4 linked regions of the Homo sapiens genome follow. The protein of the gene in region 4 interacts with the protein of the main gene of each other region in a pairwise test. Each region holds a gene or a part of one and is shown on either strand. Other genes may lie near its edges.

Region 1 (4,536 bases), on a different chromosome or scaffold from region 4:
ATACTAGAGATCCTAGCCTGTGCAGTAAGGCAAGAAAAAGAAATAAAAGGTTTATTGATTAGAAAGGCAGAAATGAAACTGTCTCTATTTGCAGATGATATGATTGTCTATACAGAAAATCCCAAAGAAACTAGAAAAAAAGTTATTAGAACTAATTGAGTTTAGCAAAGTCACAGAATACAAATTCAACATACAAAGGTCAATTGTATCCACATACTTATAACAAAAAATTAAAAATCTAATGTTTTTTAAAAATTACCATATATTATATAATAGCACCAAAACATGAAACACTTAAGTATAAATCTCATGAAACTATGTGCAAGATTTCTATGCTGAAAACAACAAAACACAGATATAAGGATCCACAGACATATAGATGGAGAGAATATGCCATATTTATGGACTAGAAGACTCAATATTGTTAAAATGTCAAATCTCCTCAAATTCATCTATATAATCAATGCAATGCCAACCAAAATCCAAGTTGAAATTTTAGCAGAAATCAACAAGTAATTCTCAAATTTATTTGGAAAAACAAAGGAACTAGACCAGACAAAACAATTTAGAGAAAGAGAAATGTTGGGGAATTGCAGTACTAGATTTCAACATTTATGGCCATAAAGAGTGTGGTACTGGTCAAGTGACAGAGCGACAGACAAAGAGATAAGTGAAATAAAATTAGAGGATCCAAAAACAGACCACAGCTTTGTGAACTCTCAACAAAGGTATACATTCAATTCAATCAAGAAAGAATAACCTTTACAACAAATGGTGCTGGAAAAATTGAACATCCATATGCAAAAACAAAGAACTTCAATCTATACCTTGCCTAACATACAAAAATTATACAAAAATTAATAACATACCTAAATGTAAAACCCCAAATTTTAAAACTTCTGGAAGAAAACAGGAGAAAAATCTTTGTGACCTTGAATTAGGTAACAATTTCCTAGACACAAAACCAAAAGCATAATCCATACAACTAAATAATTTATTAGCCACACCAAAATTTTAAAAATCTGCTCTTCAAAAGACAGTCACAATGAAAAGACAAGCCACTAGATGAGGACAAAACATTTGCAAAACACGTATCTGATAAAGGACCTAAATCCAGAATACACATACATCTCTGAAAACTCAGTAACACAACAGCCCAATAAAAATAGGGAAAGTGTTTGAAAAGACACTTCACCAAAGGAGATACACAAATGGCAAGCACACAAAAAGATGCTCAGCATCATGGCTATTAGAAAAATGGAAATTAAATCCATACCTATTAGAATGGCTAAAATTAAAAAATAAAAATCTGAAAATACCAAGTGTTGACAAGAATGAGGAACAACTGGAATGTTCATAGATTAGTGGTGAAAATTTAAAATGGTACTGCCAGGCCAGGCGCAGTGGCTTACGCCTGTAATCCCAACACTTTGGGAGGCTGAGGCAGGCAGATCACCTGAGGTCAGGAACTTGAGACCAGCCTGGCCTCCATGGTGAAACCCCATCTCTACTAAAAATACAAAAATTAGCTGGGTGTGGTGGTGCACGCCTGTAATCCTAGCTACTTGGGAGGCTGAGGCAGGAGAATCACTTGAACCCACGAGGTGGAGGTTGCAGTGAGCCGAGATCGTGCCACTGCACTCCAGCCTGGGCAATAGAGCGAGACTCTGTCTCAAAAATAAATAAAATAAATAAAATAAAATAAAATAAAATAAAATAATAAAATAAAATAAAATAAAATAAAATAAAATAAAATAAAATAAAATAATAAAATAAAATAAAATAAAATAAAATAAAATAAATAAAATGGTACAACCACCTGAGACAACAATTTGGCAATTTCCTATACATTTAAACACATACTTACCACATAACTCAGCATATGAGTTATATGCTGAGATAGTTTTATGTCACAACTCATACAATTGTCTACTAACAAGTGAATTTTGTTCTATGTAAATTATAACTCAACAAATCTGGCTTTATATTAAAAATAAGAAGAAGGCCAGGCTTGGTGGCTCACGCCTGTAATCCCAGCACTTTGTGAGGCCAAGGTAGGTGGATCACCTAAGGTCAGGAGTTCGAGACCAGCCTGAAAAACATGGTGAAACCCTGTCTCTACTAAAAATACAAAAATTAGCCAGGTGTCATGGCAGGCACCTGTAATCCCAGCTACCTGGGAGGCTGAGGCAGGAGAATCACTTGAACCCCAGAGGCAGAGGTTGCAGTGAGCTGAAATCACGCCATTGCACTCCAACCTGGGCGACAGAGTTAAGACTGCATCTCAAAACTAAAAAAAAATAAAAATAATAATAAGAAATTAGATCCCTGGACCCTCTCCCCTATTCCCTGCCTCTGGAAAAATGCCCTTCCCTAGTAGAGACTGGACATTTCTTTTCTTTTCTTTTTTTTTGTGAGACAGAGTCTCACTCTGTCACCCAGGCTGGAGTGTAGTGACGTAATCTCAGCTCACCGCAACCTCCGCCTCCCAGTTCAAGTGATTGTCCTGCCTCAGCATCCTGAGTAGCTGGGATCACAGGCACCTGCCACCACACCCAGCTAATTTTTATATTTTTAGTAGAGACGGGGTTTCATCATGTTGGCCAGTCTGGTTTCGAACTCCTGACCTCAGGTGATCCGCCCACCTCAGCCTCCCAAAGTGCTGGGATTAGAGGTGTGAACCACCCCACCTGGCCTGGACATTTATTTTCTAAAGAATCTCTGGAGGTGAAACATCAGGCACAATTGAGGATGGAGGTTCTGTCTGGAAAACATGTGGATTAGATAAACACATACCTACAAGCTCTAAGACATTCCCTCTATCTCTACTTTGTTTCCGGAGTTTATAGGCCTTCATCCCTCCAGAAATAAGGGTGGGTGAGTCTTCTCCAGACAATCTGAACAACCCAAGACAACACAGTCGAAGATACTGACCTATGGGTTCCCAATTAATTGATGCACCAGCTCACACTGCAGAAAAGTTCAGAAGCTCCACCCATATGCTCACAGCTTCCAATCGGCATTATAAATCCCACTGTTAAACATGACCAGACAACCACACATCACCAGACACCTGAGAAAAAGATAAATGGCTATCATTTTAAACAGGAACAAAAGGAGGACAAAGAAAAGAGATTGTGCAGTGAGAAGAAAAGTTTTAAAAAACTATTATTAATATCTTCCTCAAGGAGGTAAAAGAAGCTATATCATCTGTTAAACAAGAATGGGATGCTATTTTTTAAGACAATTAAAAATAAACAGCAGTCTTAGAAATTAAATGCCTGAGAGTAGAGATGAAAACTTCAATAGGAAGTATGAAAAAAGAAGTTGAGAGTACAGATGTCCCCTCTTATCTGTTGCTAAAACTTTCTGTGGTAGTGCCGGCATGTGTCAAATACAATCAAACTTGTTCCTGTCAGGTGCTTTCTGACAGTGGCAAAGCTCTCAGGGCACACACTGAGCATTCCCTCCTCCTATGGGCTTCCTGGCCACCTCCAAAGCACATATGGATTCTGGACCATGTCAGCCACATCTTAGGCAATGCCCCAGGCTCCTTGAGCACCTAGGAACATGGAGTCATCGAGCAGCAACATAAGCCCATTCTTACAAGCTTCAAAGAACAAGAAGGCAAAAAAAAAAAAAAAATCTTCCTTGACCCCAAACTGGCCTCCAGTTCTGCCCAGTTCTTGACTCCCTTCCCAGGAATATTACAAGAGTGGTCTGTTGTTGCTACCGCCCCACCTCACCTTCACCCTTCAGTCACGCTACCATCTGCTCACTGCTGAGACAGCTTCTCTCAAGGTCACCAATGTCCTCCATGTTGTCACTGCTCAGCTTTCGTCTCACTTGACTCCTCTGGCTTTTCTTGGCTTCCATAGCACTCCTTCACCAGTCCCTCCTTATACTTCTCCTTTAGATGCTAGCCCAGGGCTCTGTCCTAGGCTTCCTTCTCTTTCTACTCTCCTTAGGTGACTTCGTCTACTCCATGACTTCAAATCCCATGTATCTACCAGTGACTCTAAATCCATTTCTCCAACCCCAGCCTTTCCCTGGAATTCCAGACTTCATAGCCACAAAAACTTGCCTGGACAACTCCCCTTGGGAATTTACTGCCAACTCAGGTTTCACAAGGCCAACACCCAACTCCTGATTCTCTGTGCTCCTGCCTCATCTTCCCCATCTCAGTAAACAACGTTACCATTTACCCACCCAAAGATGCAGGTATTCTCAGTAAACAGCATTACCATTTACCCACCCAAAGATGGCAGGTATTGTTATTGATTCGTCTCTTCTCTCACATCACATCTTATCAACTCTACCTCCCAACACGCCCTAAGCCCATAACCACCACCCTAGTCTAAGCTATCCTGCTTCCCCCAGACTACTGTAATAGCCTTCTTGGTGGCTTGCTTATTTAATTTTGCATTCTTGCCTCTTCCTACCCCTATCCATCTGCCATGCTGCAGCTAGAATTAAACTGTTTGTTTGTTTGTTTCTTTCTTTGTCTGAGACAGAGTCTGGTTCTCTTGCCCACGC
Region 2 (4,158 bases), on a different chromosome or scaffold from region 4:
CAGTCAAATGACTCGCTCATGGTGGCAAGGGGAGAGAACCCTGTTAGGAGCACAAGGTGGAACTGGGGTCACACAGAGAGGCTGTGGCTTGGCTCCTGGCAAAGAGGCCTCTGCATTCAAAACACAGCCAAGAGACCCGGCATAGGAAATGCCAGTTCAGAGTAGGTGGGGATGGGGAAGGGGTGCTTCTGGGAAACCAGGAATCCCACATGTTTCTTTCTGTATTTAACTCGGGGTAGGAAGAGGTCAGGAAAAAAACCAGGAAGCAGAAGTTGTTTTCTTATCTAGGCCCTAGCAGATCTAGGGGGAGGGGGCTTTTCCTGGGTCAGTGACTCATTTCCTGTCCCAGCCAGCGTCTAGCCTCCACTGTCCCGACTGTCCCCAGCGTGGGAGAAGCAGGGGCAGGGAGCCACCCCACTCTACTCCTTATGAGCAGTACTCCCACCCTCTCCTGACTCCCAGGAAGGGACTTTAGGAATATGGATAAAGGAACCCTTAACCAGAGCTCTGGAGTACAGAACTTAGAGACGGGAATGGGCTGTGCCTGCCCCTCCTGATCCAGAAAACAGTGGAATGCTAGAGAGGTGCTGGACTAATGAATGGTAGAAGAGGCCAGTGTGAGAGGTTGGGCCTTCCCTCCCGGGGAATCAGCCAAGCAATGGGAACTTCAGAGGCTCAGCTTAGGTTCAAGCAGGAAGGAAATCCTGCAAGCTGGACACAGCCAGTCTTCCCTAGCTAGACCCTCTGCCCTCATCCCCCCACCCCCGCTGTGTCACACCAGCTTGGACAGCCTTGGCCTGTAACATCTGCAGCAGCTGTGGCGGCACAGATGGCCAGATGTCAGGTTTTGCCAGCAATGGGGAGAAAAAAGGAAAATGAAGTGTCGGGGGAGGCAGAGGGGAACTGGAGACAGACTGGGAGTGCAGTGTACCCCCTGCCACCTCCTGCTAACATCTGGCAAAACCCCAGGATCTTTCCATCCCCTGGGGTCATGATTTCCCTCCTACTGCCTCTGGGAGAGAAGGTCTCTCCCACCTTTTCCGATTTCTCAGGGTTTGGGACTAGGGAGCTGAAAGGAGAGAGAGCAAGAGCCACTGAAGACATTTTCTCCCCAATCAGGCCCCATCTTGGGTGGGGAGTAGGACAAGGGGGAGCCCTGAGAGCTGCTGCTGGAGACACCCAGCCCCCGACCAAACCTCAGACACTTTCCATTTTCTCAGGAACAAAGCATGTTTGTGGGATGAGGTCATCCACACAGCTGCCTCTGGAACAGGAGCCTAGGGAGTGGAGCGGTAGGGAAGTGGGGTTCCCAGACCTTTCTGCTGCCCCGGATTCCAGTCTCTAGCCCCAAAGTCAGAGCTCCCACCCCTGCTCTCCTCCATCATGAAGGCTGCTCTCTAAGGGCTGGGATCCTGGGGTAGTGGAGAGGAACCACCAGGACCCATAGGAAGGAGATGTTCTCACAGCTGTGGATGAGCCCGGGGAAGTTACAGGGACACACAAAGGAATCCACCAACCCACTCTCCCACAAGGCTCCAGTGCTGGCAGTCGCCAGGGCCTGCCCTGGCTCAAGCTGAAGGAGAAGTCCTCCTTTTCTCATCCACCCCCAGTGCGAAATTCTTGACAACAAGCGCTGCTCTGGCTTGAAGTTCAGACTCCAGGCACCAGCAGATGCCCCCAGCTTGGAGGCCTGACTCTCCATACATCAAGCCTCTGCGCAATGGGAGAACAGCCAGCTTGCGCTCCAGGCCAGGGCATGAGGCCACCAGGGGCCAGGGTCTTTAGAGCTGGAACTCCTGGGCTGGGGGCTATGGTGTAGAGAAGATACTCCTCTTTCTCAGCCCCCTTCCTGCCACTCAGGCCCAGGTTTCCTCTGGCCCAACATCTGAGGATTGCCTGGGCTGTCAGCCACGGGGCAGCAGGGGGCCACACAGGTGGAATGCGTCCACAGGGGGTGCCTGGGCCTCTTCCTTCCTTCTTGGCTTGGCCCACTGCGGCTGCCACCTTCTCAGGCCCAGGCTAGACTTGGGTCCACCCCCTGAGAGACAGTCAGCACTCCGAAACCAGGGCAACCCAAATAGGGTATGGGCATGGCTTCTATTTCCTTCCCAGAATCCCCCAATGCCCTAGTCTATCCAGCTGGGCTCTGGTGAGGACAGAGTAAAGGGCACCAACAAGGCCCACCTGTCTCTGCCCATACCCCTCTCCCTGCCCTTTTCCCTGGCAAGGCTGGGGACTGCGGGGACTGAAGGGAGCCAGCCTTGTATTCCTTCCTGACCGGCAGTGGGGCGGGGTTTGGGGGAGACTGCTCCTCTACAGATGGCTCACAACCCTGCACCTCCAACAATCTCCCCTCACAAGGCACCTCCCAGTGAACCTCCTGGAGCTCAGAATGACTGCGTAACTGGCTATGGTGTATGGAGCAGCTCAAGCTGTAAGGTTTGAATCCTGGCTCCTGCACTTACTGGCTGAGTGATCTTGGGCAAATCCCTAAGCCTGTTTTCCCATCTAATTAAATGAGATACTACCACTTCCTACCTCCTAAGTTTGTTGTCAGGCTTAAATGTGATGATACTTGTAAAGCACCTGGCAGATAATAAATACTCAGAAAATGGTAGCTATTAGTATTTTACTATTAGCGCCCTCACTCATACTGGGGCCAGATAGCAGTTTCACAGGCAGGTCTGGGTCAAGCAGCTGGACTGGAATTTTTTTTTTTTTTTTGAGACAGAGTCTCGCTCTGTCGCCCAGGCTGGGGTACAGTGGCGCAATCTCGGCTCACTGCAACCTCCACCTCCCGGGTTCAAGTGATTCTCCTCCCTCAGCCTCCCGAGTAGCTGGGACTACAGGCACCTGCTACCACGCCCGGCTAATTTTTTGTATTTTTAGTAGAGACGGGGTTTCACTGTGTTAGTCAGGATGGTCTCGAACTCCTGACCTCATGATCTCCCTGCCTCAGCCTCCCAAAGTGCTGGGATTACAGGCATGAACCACCACACCCTGCCTGGACTAGAATTTTTAAATAGAGATGGGGTCTCAATATGCTGCGCAGGCTGGTCTCAAACTCCTGGGCTCAAGCTATCCTCTTGCCTTGGGTTCCCAAAGTGCTGGGATTACAGGCATGAGCCACAGTGCCAGCCCAATTTTTTTTTTTTTTTTTTTTTTGAGACAGGGTCTCACTCTGTCACCCAGACTGGAGCGCAGTTAACTCCATCTCGGCTCACTGCAATCTCCACCTCCCAGGTTCAAGCGATTCTTCTGCCTCAGCCTCCCAAGTAGCTGGGATTACAGGAGGGCACCACCATGCCCAGCTAATTTTTGTATTTTTAGTAGAGATGGAGAGTTTCGCCATGTTGGCCAAGCTGGTGTCCGCTCAGCCTTTTTGTTTTTTTTTTTTGTTTTGAGTTGGGGTCTCACTCTGTTGCCAGGGCTGGAGTGCAGTGGCACGATCATGGCTCACGGCAGCCTCGAACTTCTGTGCTCAGCCAGGTGAGGTGGCTCACACCTGTAATCCCAGCACTTTGGGAGGTTAAGGCCGGTGGATCACCTGAGGTCAGGAGTTCAAGACCAGCCTGGCCAACATGGTGAAAACCCATCTCCACTAAAAATACAAAAATTAACTAGGCATGGTGGCGGGCGCCTGTAAGCCCAGCTACTCAGGAGGCTGAGGCAGGAGAATTGCTTGAACCGAGGAGGTGAAGGTTGCAGTGAGCCAAGATCATGTCATTACACTCCAGCCTGGGCTACAACAGCAAAACTCTGTCTCAAAACAAAACAAAACAACAACAAAAAAAACAACTCTGGGCTCAAGCAAACCACCTGCCTCAGCCTCCTGAGTAGATGGGACTACAGCCATGTGCCACCATGCCCAGCTAGGTTTTTCTATTTTTTGTAGAGATGGGGTTCTCACTATGTTGCCCAGGGTGGTCTTGAACTCCTGGCTTCAAGTGATCCTCTGGCCTCAGCCTTCCAAAGTGCTGGGGTTACAGGCGTGAGCCACTGTGCCCAGCCTGGTCTGAAATTTGACCTGGACATTCTCAGCATAGGCCCAGGGAGAGAATAGGGGGCCCCAGGCCCATGGGGCTTGCTGAGGACACCAGTGGGGAAAGTGGTCGCTTCAGTCCGGTCAGCCTGACTCTAGTAAGCTTAACTCTTGAG
Region 3 (4,237 bases), on a different chromosome or scaffold from region 4:
CATTCCCAACAGTGTGCAAGGGTCTCCTTTTCTGCATATCCTTGCCAACACTTCTTTCATCTTTTTGATAAGTCATTCAACAGGTATCAGGTATTACCATTATCTCATTGTGGTTTTAATTTGCATTTCCCTGATGATTAGTGATCTTGGACATTTCTTCATATACCTGTCAGCCATGTGTATGTTTCCTTCTGAGACATGTCAATTCAGGTCAAGTCATTCCTTCTAACAGTAATTGGACAGCAAAGCCAAATTATATTAAGGCACTTCCCAGTAACATTAAGCCATATCTTCAACACTTGGAAGAATGTTTTCTGAGCCTTCGTGCGGTAAATCCAAAAGGGAGTTTTGTTCACTGCTCTAACCTACTGCCTAGAACAATGCCTGGCACATAGCAGGCACTCACAGTTGTTGAATTATTAGGCAAAATATGCATAATATCTTTATTATCTTAGCAGAGGGGGTAAATCCTCAAGTCACAATATACAGAGAACAGAAAGTAAGTTGTAAAATATTTTTTATTGTAAAAACAAAGTCAATAAAGGTTGACAATGTAAATGTTATCTCACAACATTTCCCCTTGGTTCCTGAATTTGCTAGATTCCTATGTACCAGCAAATCTCCATTAGCATTTCTCAGGTTTCATGATCCTTTTCAGATATGTTGGTTGATTTTATGTATATATTGCTTAGAAACAAAAATCCACCTGATATTAAAACAAACCAAAAAAAATCATAAAAGCAAGCAAATGAACAAAAAACCCTAGTTTTGTTGTGCTTTTCTTTCACATTTCCTACAGGGAGATTTGTATATCTCAGATACTTTCAAAATCTAATAGGTAAGTAAAATTAGTGCCTTAACCAAACAGTAAGATACCAAAGAATCCTCCATCACAAGTTACTGAATCAAACTTCTCATGACATTTGCGGTATATTCAGATTTGAAGATTTTTTAAATTTAGAATTTAAAACAAACTTTAGACTGCTGATTTTCCATATTTCAAAGACTGTAGTTGTTTGCAGCATATAAATGGAAAGAGTAGTGCAAAACGCATCAAGTTTTATATGATAAATATATACTTTCAACCTAATGGCTGCCTCAAAAGTAAAGAGTGAACAATTACTTCTCAAAATAAATCTAGATTGACTTAAAGTTCACAATTTAGAAATAGCAATTGCTACTCTATTTCCATAGATTGCAAAATGATTTCAAATACAGATTATACATACAATTGTTTTACAAAAATAGAAATATTGTTTGGGATTTTACAAAACTTTATAAAATATAACACTATATTTGCAAATTCAAGATAGTTTCACACTGAAATAGACAATACTTCCACGATATGAAGTCTAGCCAAACTTAAAGTGGTCTGCCTTGAGGCCATTCTTACATATTATTTCTTCCAAATCTTCAAGCCTAGGTAAATCTGTGCTCTAACACAGGCTTTGTAAAAAAGAGACTGTTTATTTTCAAGGGTTTTATAAGATTTTCAATCCAGAAATAATGTTAAAGCATAAGAATTTATACCTAAAAAATATGTCTTACTAAAGGTAGAAGCTAATGCAGTATGACAATTCTGTATAACTGATAAATTTCAAACCAAATTCCTAAGAATGACAACTTTTATTAATTTAAAATATATATTTGACAATTATAATTTGGGACCTATATAAAACAAAAATATAATCACAACTATTTTATGGAAAAATATTTATTCATATAGAGTGAAAATACCTCCAAACTTAGTTATTTGTAGCTGTCAGATGAGAAGTATTTCCTAATTACACCCATTCATAAACACTCATTTTATCACTTCAAAGAGCACCAGTGTATTTTTTCAACAAACCAGAAAGTAAGAAGGTAGGGGCTTATTTCATGTAACAGTGCTATTATGATAAGGCACCACTAGGTATATGAAAAAGCCAAAGTATTTCCAAATCATGTGTTTTTGTTACTGGTGTCTTAACCATTAGACAGGATGGTTAGAAAAAAGCTGCTAACATTATTAATGAACCACATTATAGCCCCTTTCCCACCATTCTGTGCTTTTAGTTTTACTTATAACAGAAATGAAAACAACAACGTAGTACATGACCTGTTAAAACAAACATCTTTTCCCAACCTTCCAAGAAAATAACCTAAAAATAAACAAGAAACAAAAAATTTATCTGATATATTTGCAAAAGCCTATCCCTGTAGAAGAGTGTGAGGAGTGGGAGAAGGCAGGGGGACCTACTTTCTATGGAATATATTGAGGCACATAGGTTACAAGTTTCTCAGGCAAATTCATGGCTAGAACAAAACAGAGAGAGAGCTCAGAATCTTACATTTCCCCCAAAGTTGATTTCTCAGATAGCCACACCTGATTAAATACTCCCAAATGTGTCCTTAGTCACTGCTATCATCATCGTCATCATCATCAGACATATCATTTAAAGGAGACTTCAATGACTGGCTGTAAGAGTCTGATCTAGCAGGCTGGCATGTGGCCATGTCCCCAGCAGAAAGCAGGTCATAGCAGAAGTCACAAATCCGCACAGGCTTAGAGGACTGGCTGGGAAGAAGAAATCTCTTTTCAGAGCAGGGCCCACAGACAACAAAACCACATTTGCGGCAATGGTGGCGACGATTAACAGGTGTGAATTTTGCTTTCTGACAACGCATACATACAGTTGCCTCAGAGTCAGGAACCCAGACAGCAGCATGTTCATTACTGGGTGTCTTCCCACTTTTGGAGAGTAAATCAGTAACACATTTATTTATATGATTCATCCATTCTGATTTCTCCGTAGCAGTGGCAGCATAAACTGCAAAAGATTTAGTTGGTGTCTTGATTAGCCATCCATTCCTTAAGTCTCCCTCATCTTTGATGGAATCAATAGTGACATTTTCCAGGGGAATAATATGTTGTTTGTTATATTTTTTCTTCTGGATGACAATATTGCCATATACAAGAATATCATTAAACAAGAAAAACTGCCTTGCTTTGGGCTTTTTCCTGCACAACTTAGTCAATACTCCTTCTCCAATAAGAACTCGTCCAGGTATAGTTAAAGGTTGACCAGCTGCTCCAAAACAGTTTTCCACTATACTTATACGTCTAGTATTTGCTTCACTGTTTGCCAAGCGATCCACCATCTTTCACTAATAGCCTTTTAAAAAAAAGAAAAAGAAATTAGCACATATAAATTATAAATTCCTATAAGTTAATTATATATAAATTAAGCTAACAAATCATTGCTTTTACACAAAGGCAAAATGTTCTAAAATTCTTTCCCTCTAAGATAATCACTAAGCACATCAAAAGGGCTAACATTTCTCAATTTTTAAAATGATGAAAAACACTTATTTATCATCTCCACGTAGCACCATACTAGTTAAGCAGGTATTTGTAAAAGTATAAACTTCCTACAGACATAATTGAATGAAAGACGATTGGATAATTAACATAACTTATCTCTGCAAAATAATAAACCCCATTCAATGAAATGTAATCTCAATGGGATTCTGAACAATAGGGAACAAAATGTTACATAAACTAAGAAAAATGACTACAATTTTCCAAGTAAGCTATTACCACTGAGCTACAGCCTTAATTCTCTCACCTGGATTACTAGAACTGTTTCCCAACATGTGTCCTGGCCTTCAATCTTGCCCCCAAATCAATCTTTGGGCAGTGATCTCTAAAACCCTAATTTGACCCCATCATTGCTCAAAATGATCCCTTAACCTATTAAATACAGGGTGTTCACGGCCTTTCATTACTTGGTTCTTGTCACTCCAACCTCACCATAAGTCAGTCTTCACCTCAAATGTCATATTCTAAGAACACTCTACTACTTGTAGTCCATTTCACTGTTGTTCCTTTTACTACTTACTACTGCAGCTAACTCATATTCATCCTTCGAGACTTAGTTTAGGTAATCGTGTCTCCTCCAGGAAGCCTCCTTTAAACTCCCATGCTAGACTAAAACCCTTCCTGTGAGCTATCCATATTCCATGTATATTCTAGCTTCACTTTTACCAAAGGACTGAAATCTGTTCCTCCAGAGACCATGCAGAACCTAAAAAGCAGAGATCATCTGATAGTTTTGTTTGAAACTGATACGGTTTGACACAGAAAAGGTACTAAAAAATGTTAATAACATTTTAACAATGTGCAAAACACCCTATTAATCTAAACATTTAATCTCTAAGTCCAATATTGACTTCACTCAAGTCCCAGAGTTGTATC
Region 4 (4,861 bases):
TGATAATTATTTATAGGCAAAATCAAGCTGTAAGGATGCCGTTATCAGTGAGGTTTTGTTCAATTTGGGTGGTTCAACCTGAAGATGTAATATCTGAGGACAGGCTTTTTAGCATCTTGGCTTAGGTGCTGTGGTACATTATCATTATTGCTTGTTAAATGTGGGTAAACTTTTGCAATGAAGATGCCTTTAAAATACATTTGTCCTAGATAGGTCCAGACATCAGCACTTCATTGCCACATAAAATGTCCTGGACATGTCTTTAGAATCAGGGGGCAAACTGCTCTCCCTTCTACTCCCTTTCTTCCTTATATAAACATTAATGTTTAAATATAACCCTAACAAGAAGCCATATTTCCCTTTTTTTTTTTTTTTTTTTGAGACAAGGTCTGGCTCTATGGCCCAGGCTAGAGTACAGTGGTACAATCTCTGTCCACTGCAACTTTTGCTTCCCCAGCTCAAGCCATCCTCCCACCTCAGCCTCCCAAGTAGCTGGGACTACAGGTACATGCCACCACACCTGGCTAATTTTTGTATTTTTTGTAGAGACAAAAATACAAAAGCTGGTCTCAAACTCATGAGTTCAAGCGATCTGCCTGCCTCGGCCTCCCAAAGTGCTGGGATTATAAGCATGAGCCACCATGCCTGGCCCGTATTTAAACACTCTAGTATGTAACTATGTCAATTAAATACATAGTAGTCCAACTAATACAGGGGATTTTTTCTCCTCAAAGGTTTTTCATGTCAAAAGTGCCCAGTGGAATTAAAAATGAGAAGGCTCTTTTACATATCTCCCTTCTCTTGGGAACCCATTCAAGGGTGGGGAGCATCTCAGGCTGAGAGAACTTGCCCTTCTCCCTCCGAGGACCGAAGAACCTTTTAAGACTTATTCCTGCACTGGGAGCTCTCTCTGCATCCTTGTCATGTAGAGGCTTTTATTTATTTGCTTATTTACTTTCCCTTCCACATTTGTAAGTTTATTGTCTGACCTAAGCAGTCATCTTACCTTTCAAGCACTTTGAAAAATGGAAACAGTAAGTCAGAGAAGTGGTTGGTGTGAGCACCACTGAATGTTACTGTTTGAAACTTCTCTCTAAAAAAAAAAATCTGAGCAAGAAGTTTGTCATATACAGCACCTCAAGAATGTTTTTAAAACGAAAGAAAAAAGCCCTGGTTTTCAATGTTTTGCCTCAAACCAGAATGGCATGGTCTCCAAGTAAGAATGAAGGAATGCACGTCTATATTCTGAATGCAAGGCTACTGAATTTCATTAATAGAAGCAGTAGTTTTCATGGACTGCATACTTCCTATGTCAGGTACTGGGCTAAGCACTTTCCTTGCTTCCCACACTCAACTATACATTGTTGGGAGTTTTCCATTTTTACTTTGTTTTCAATGGGATTCTCCACTAAAATATCTGCTTATCTAGGACTCACGGGTAGGTAACTTGGACAATACATGGAAAGCACATTCTCTTACACATAGTAGGCACTCAGTAAGTATCTGTTGAATAAGTGAATGGATGGAGAGAATTAACTCCATTTTGAACAAATTATCTTTCTGAATGCAACCCTAAAACTTTGCCATTCATATTTCTCAGGAATGTCTCATTTAACTGATAATTTGATTCCTGGCCCATGCGTTAGTAAAAGTCATTTTTACATCAAGTTTCTATTTTTAGAGATCCTCTTTCCACAAGTAGAAATGACATAAACCACGCTCGTCTCCTTAGTTTATTTTTTTCTAGAGTCCTTAACATGCTACATTAACCTGACAAAGCTTAATCTTGTGTTCGTTTCACAATACATTTCATGCAGTTCACAGCTGTGATTGGTTTTACATTGACATTACACATGTTTCGATTCAGCCATGTGAAAAGAGTAATTCTTAATGGGGTTTGTCTCTGAAAACTGTCCAAGCTTAAATAAGCATATGAGCAGTTCACTCTATTCTTAAGTGCATCTCTCTTTAAAATGCAAGGATTTTTAGTGTAAGAATATAATGTCCCTGTTTATAGTCCATTTGCAACAGAACCACTTCCTTTAGGTTTCACATATCCTGAGGAATCCACTTTTACAAAATTGCATTCAAGTATATTATTTCATTTAACATTCCAGGTTGGGTTTAGGTGCAAGGCTGACCTTCAGCTTTACATCCCCAAATAAATCTTCCACGGACCCAGCCTTCCCAAGACTATTCTTAACATTAGACTCTCTTTTACAATAAACATTCAGCACTAAAGCCACAGAACAGAGCTATTTGGCATTTTCCAGTGAAGTGCAAGAAGTTAAATAAGTTATGTTTTTATTGCTAATGTATAGAATCAAGCACAGTCACTTTGTCAAACAGAAGGAAAGGGCATACACAAGATGTGGCCTCTCCTCAGATGCCTCAGGGTCAAAACGCACAGAAAATGTCACCTGGCCACCACCCATCCAGCACCACTTTAAGATGATGTGTTGAGTGTTCTAGAGTCTGAGGAGTCAGACCTCTCGTCATAGTCGTCCTCGGTGTAAATGGACTGCTTTGACACAAATGGACACCCATCATCAGGGATGGAAATCCGAGGGTCTTCCGTGGCGCGGGCAGGAAGGACGGGCGAGCTTCTGAAGACGCTGGTAGAGTTACTGGGGAAAGGACTGACATACTGGGACCTCAGCTGATACTGCTGCTGCAGCGTCATGGTGTTCCACAGGGTGACATCATTGGGCAAAAAGGGGCTCGACTGGCTTCTCGCCAAAGTATTCCTCAGCATCAGCGGGTACCGGGGTGGCTGGGGGAAAGGGGGCTGCAGAGGCCCAGCCAAGGGACTGGGGACAACGTTGCTAGAGTCGGCAGAAAACCTCAACGTGTCTGGGACTCGAAAGGCTGATCCCACAGACCATTTGGAAGACGAGATGGGGTAGGAGCTCAAGGTGTGTTCAAAGATGTGCCCATTGGAGGGCAACGCTAGACTCTCAGGTTCTGCGGAAGTTCGCTCTGCTCCCGTGACTGAGGATCGGCTGGACAGAAGGACTTCCACGGCGCTCACCAGGTCCCCGCCACAGCCCTTGAGGATGAGCTCAAGCACCGTTGGCTTCTGGTTGGGGAATATCTTTTTTAACACTTCAAGCGGCGGTCTGTTGGCTTTCAAGCTGAAGGGCAGAGAAACAGTCCCCGAGGGGCCCTCAATCAGGAGGTGATTCTGCTCCGCGTGACACTTGGGGCTGTCAGGGCGGCTCTCGGGGTTGCCTCCGTTTTTCTGGACAGCGTATCCCCCTTCCTCCACGGACACTATCTCAGGGCTCTCAGGGGTGAAGCAGCCCTTACTCTTTGCCACATCTGGGGAACTCCTCTGGTCAGTGTCTTTGTCACTGAAGACCTCTGTATTGTCTGCCGACTTGCCGTCTCCAAGTCGTTCTTCAGTCAAATCTGGAAAACAGAACAGCTGAGTTAATCTTTTCCTGGTGTGCATAAAGAGGAGCAGATGTGCTCAGAAGAGACCTGTACACGTGCTTTTTGGAAGAGCAAATGCATCTCAATGGGTCATAATATACTACAAGCCTTTTTAAAAAAATTCGAACTATATCACTGGCAAATGAAACAAAAACCCTGTAAATAAAGATCTAGAAATCAGAGTGGCTTCCTGGAATGCTTTGTGCAAGGAAGCTTGCCTTCAACATAGAATGGCTACATGAACCTGTAACATATGGCTTTCATAGCAGTAACAATCTCAATAGAGAGCCTCTTTGGGAGGAGGGGTGGGGGACTCCTGGAAGAGCAAAGCTCAGGGAGAAACAGGAAAATCAGCTCAGCTTGTCTTCCGGCTCCTCTTCTGCAAATAAGGTCCCCAGCTGTTATCTAGGGATAGTACCATCCAGATACCCACAGGGAATTTTAATATCTGAAATCTATTTTCCCATAGGCTGATTTTGTGTTAAATATGTCTTATGAACCAATCAGTAAGTTGCATCAGGTTACCATATACAATAGCTAGCTAATTCAATTGCTGAAGTGAAAGATACCTCTATCCATTGAAATCTTTCATAAGAAGCCACTTGAGGCATTGGCAAACTTGGTTGCCAATAACTTGTACTAGAAAGCAAACGAAACCAGCTATGAATTCCGGATGGCAGGATAAGTTGCTGGAGAGGAAAAAAGGAAGTGGCTAGAAAGGGTTTGTTAAATTGCACGGGGGCATTATTATCCATCAATGAAACAACGCATCACACTCCACCGCCACGGGTGGCACGAGGCAGATACCTGTGCATGAACTGTTTTGCTGGTACAGTTCATGGAAAGGACTTGAAGATACCTTTTTTTAAAGCCAGTGAAATTTGAAGATACCTTTTTATATTATATGAAAAGAAGAAGGAGGGAAAAAAAGGCTTCCCAAATAAAGCAGAGACTTGCGATAAAGTAAACCAGTTGCAAATTTAACATCTTGACCTAAGAACATTTTTACTTAACAGCTGGTAATATTGCAGGGCTAAGCACACAGAAAAGAGTAAGTCAGAGTGGTTTGCTTTGCAGTAGTAAATTCCAACAGGACTTTATAATAAAGAAACATATTTTTTAGTAGCAAGCTATTTGCAAATAGAGTTTTGTCCTTTTTTGAAACACGCGCTGGCTGTGGCTACTCAAAGCCAGGGTAGCTGATCGAAAGATGAAAATTCCTAATGACCCAGTTGTTGAGTTGTAAACAATTGCTTTGCCTGTGTTTTCTGCTGCCCTGCCTGAATAGCTTCATTGTTGCCTTCTCTGTGGGCACACCTGATTATATACAGATAGCCAGCCGGTGAAATTTCATCAAAGCACCCTCTAGAAACAATCTTCTCCTACACTTGTCATTTTAAAAGCCTTAAGGGCCTACTTATGAACA

The links. The genes of interacting proteins can lie anywhere in the genome.
Region 1: the proteins of DMRT3 (region 4) and HSF2BP interact in binary tests that used the Homo sapiens proteins (3 or more experiments, as listed by UniProt).
Region 2: the proteins of DMRT3 (region 4) and FHL3 interact in binary tests that used the Homo sapiens proteins (3 or more experiments, as listed by UniProt).
Region 3: the proteins of DMRT3 (region 4) and PLEKHF2 interact in binary tests that used the Homo sapiens proteins (3 or more experiments, as listed by UniProt).

What each region holds. Positions count from the first base shown.
Region 1 is NC_000021.9:43,533,989-43,538,524, forward strand, and holds part of HSF2BP (heat shock factor 2-binding protein), read right to left. Parts: intron 1-4,536. UniProt on the Homo sapiens protein: Meiotic recombination factor component of recombination bridges involved in meiotic double-strand break repair.
Region 2 is NC_000001.11:37,999,393-38,003,550, forward strand, and holds part of FHL3 (four and a half LIM domains protein 3), read right to left. Parts: intron 41-4,158; 5' UTR 21-40; coding exon 1-20. UniProt on the Homo sapiens protein: Recruited by SOX15 to FOXK1 promoters where it acts as a transcriptional coactivator of FOXK1.
Region 3 is NC_000008.11:95,152,949-95,157,185, reverse strand, and holds the end of PLEKHF2 (pleckstrin homology domain-containing family F member 2), read right to left. Parts: intron 3,156-4,237; 5' UTR 3,142-3,155; coding exon 2,392-3,141; 3' UTR 501-2,391; downstream 1-500. UniProt on the Homo sapiens protein: May play a role in early endosome fusion upstream of RAB5, hence regulating receptor trafficking and fluid-phase transport. Enhances cellular sensitivity to TNF-induced apoptosis.
Region 4 is NC_000009.12:988,591-993,451, reverse strand, and holds the end of DMRT3 (doublesex- and mab-3-related transcription factor 3), read right to left. Parts: intron 3,412-4,861; coding exon 2,447-3,411; 3' UTR 1,720-2,446; downstream 1-1,719. UniProt on the Homo sapiens protein: Probable transcription factor that plays a role in configuring the spinal circuits controlling stride in vertebrates.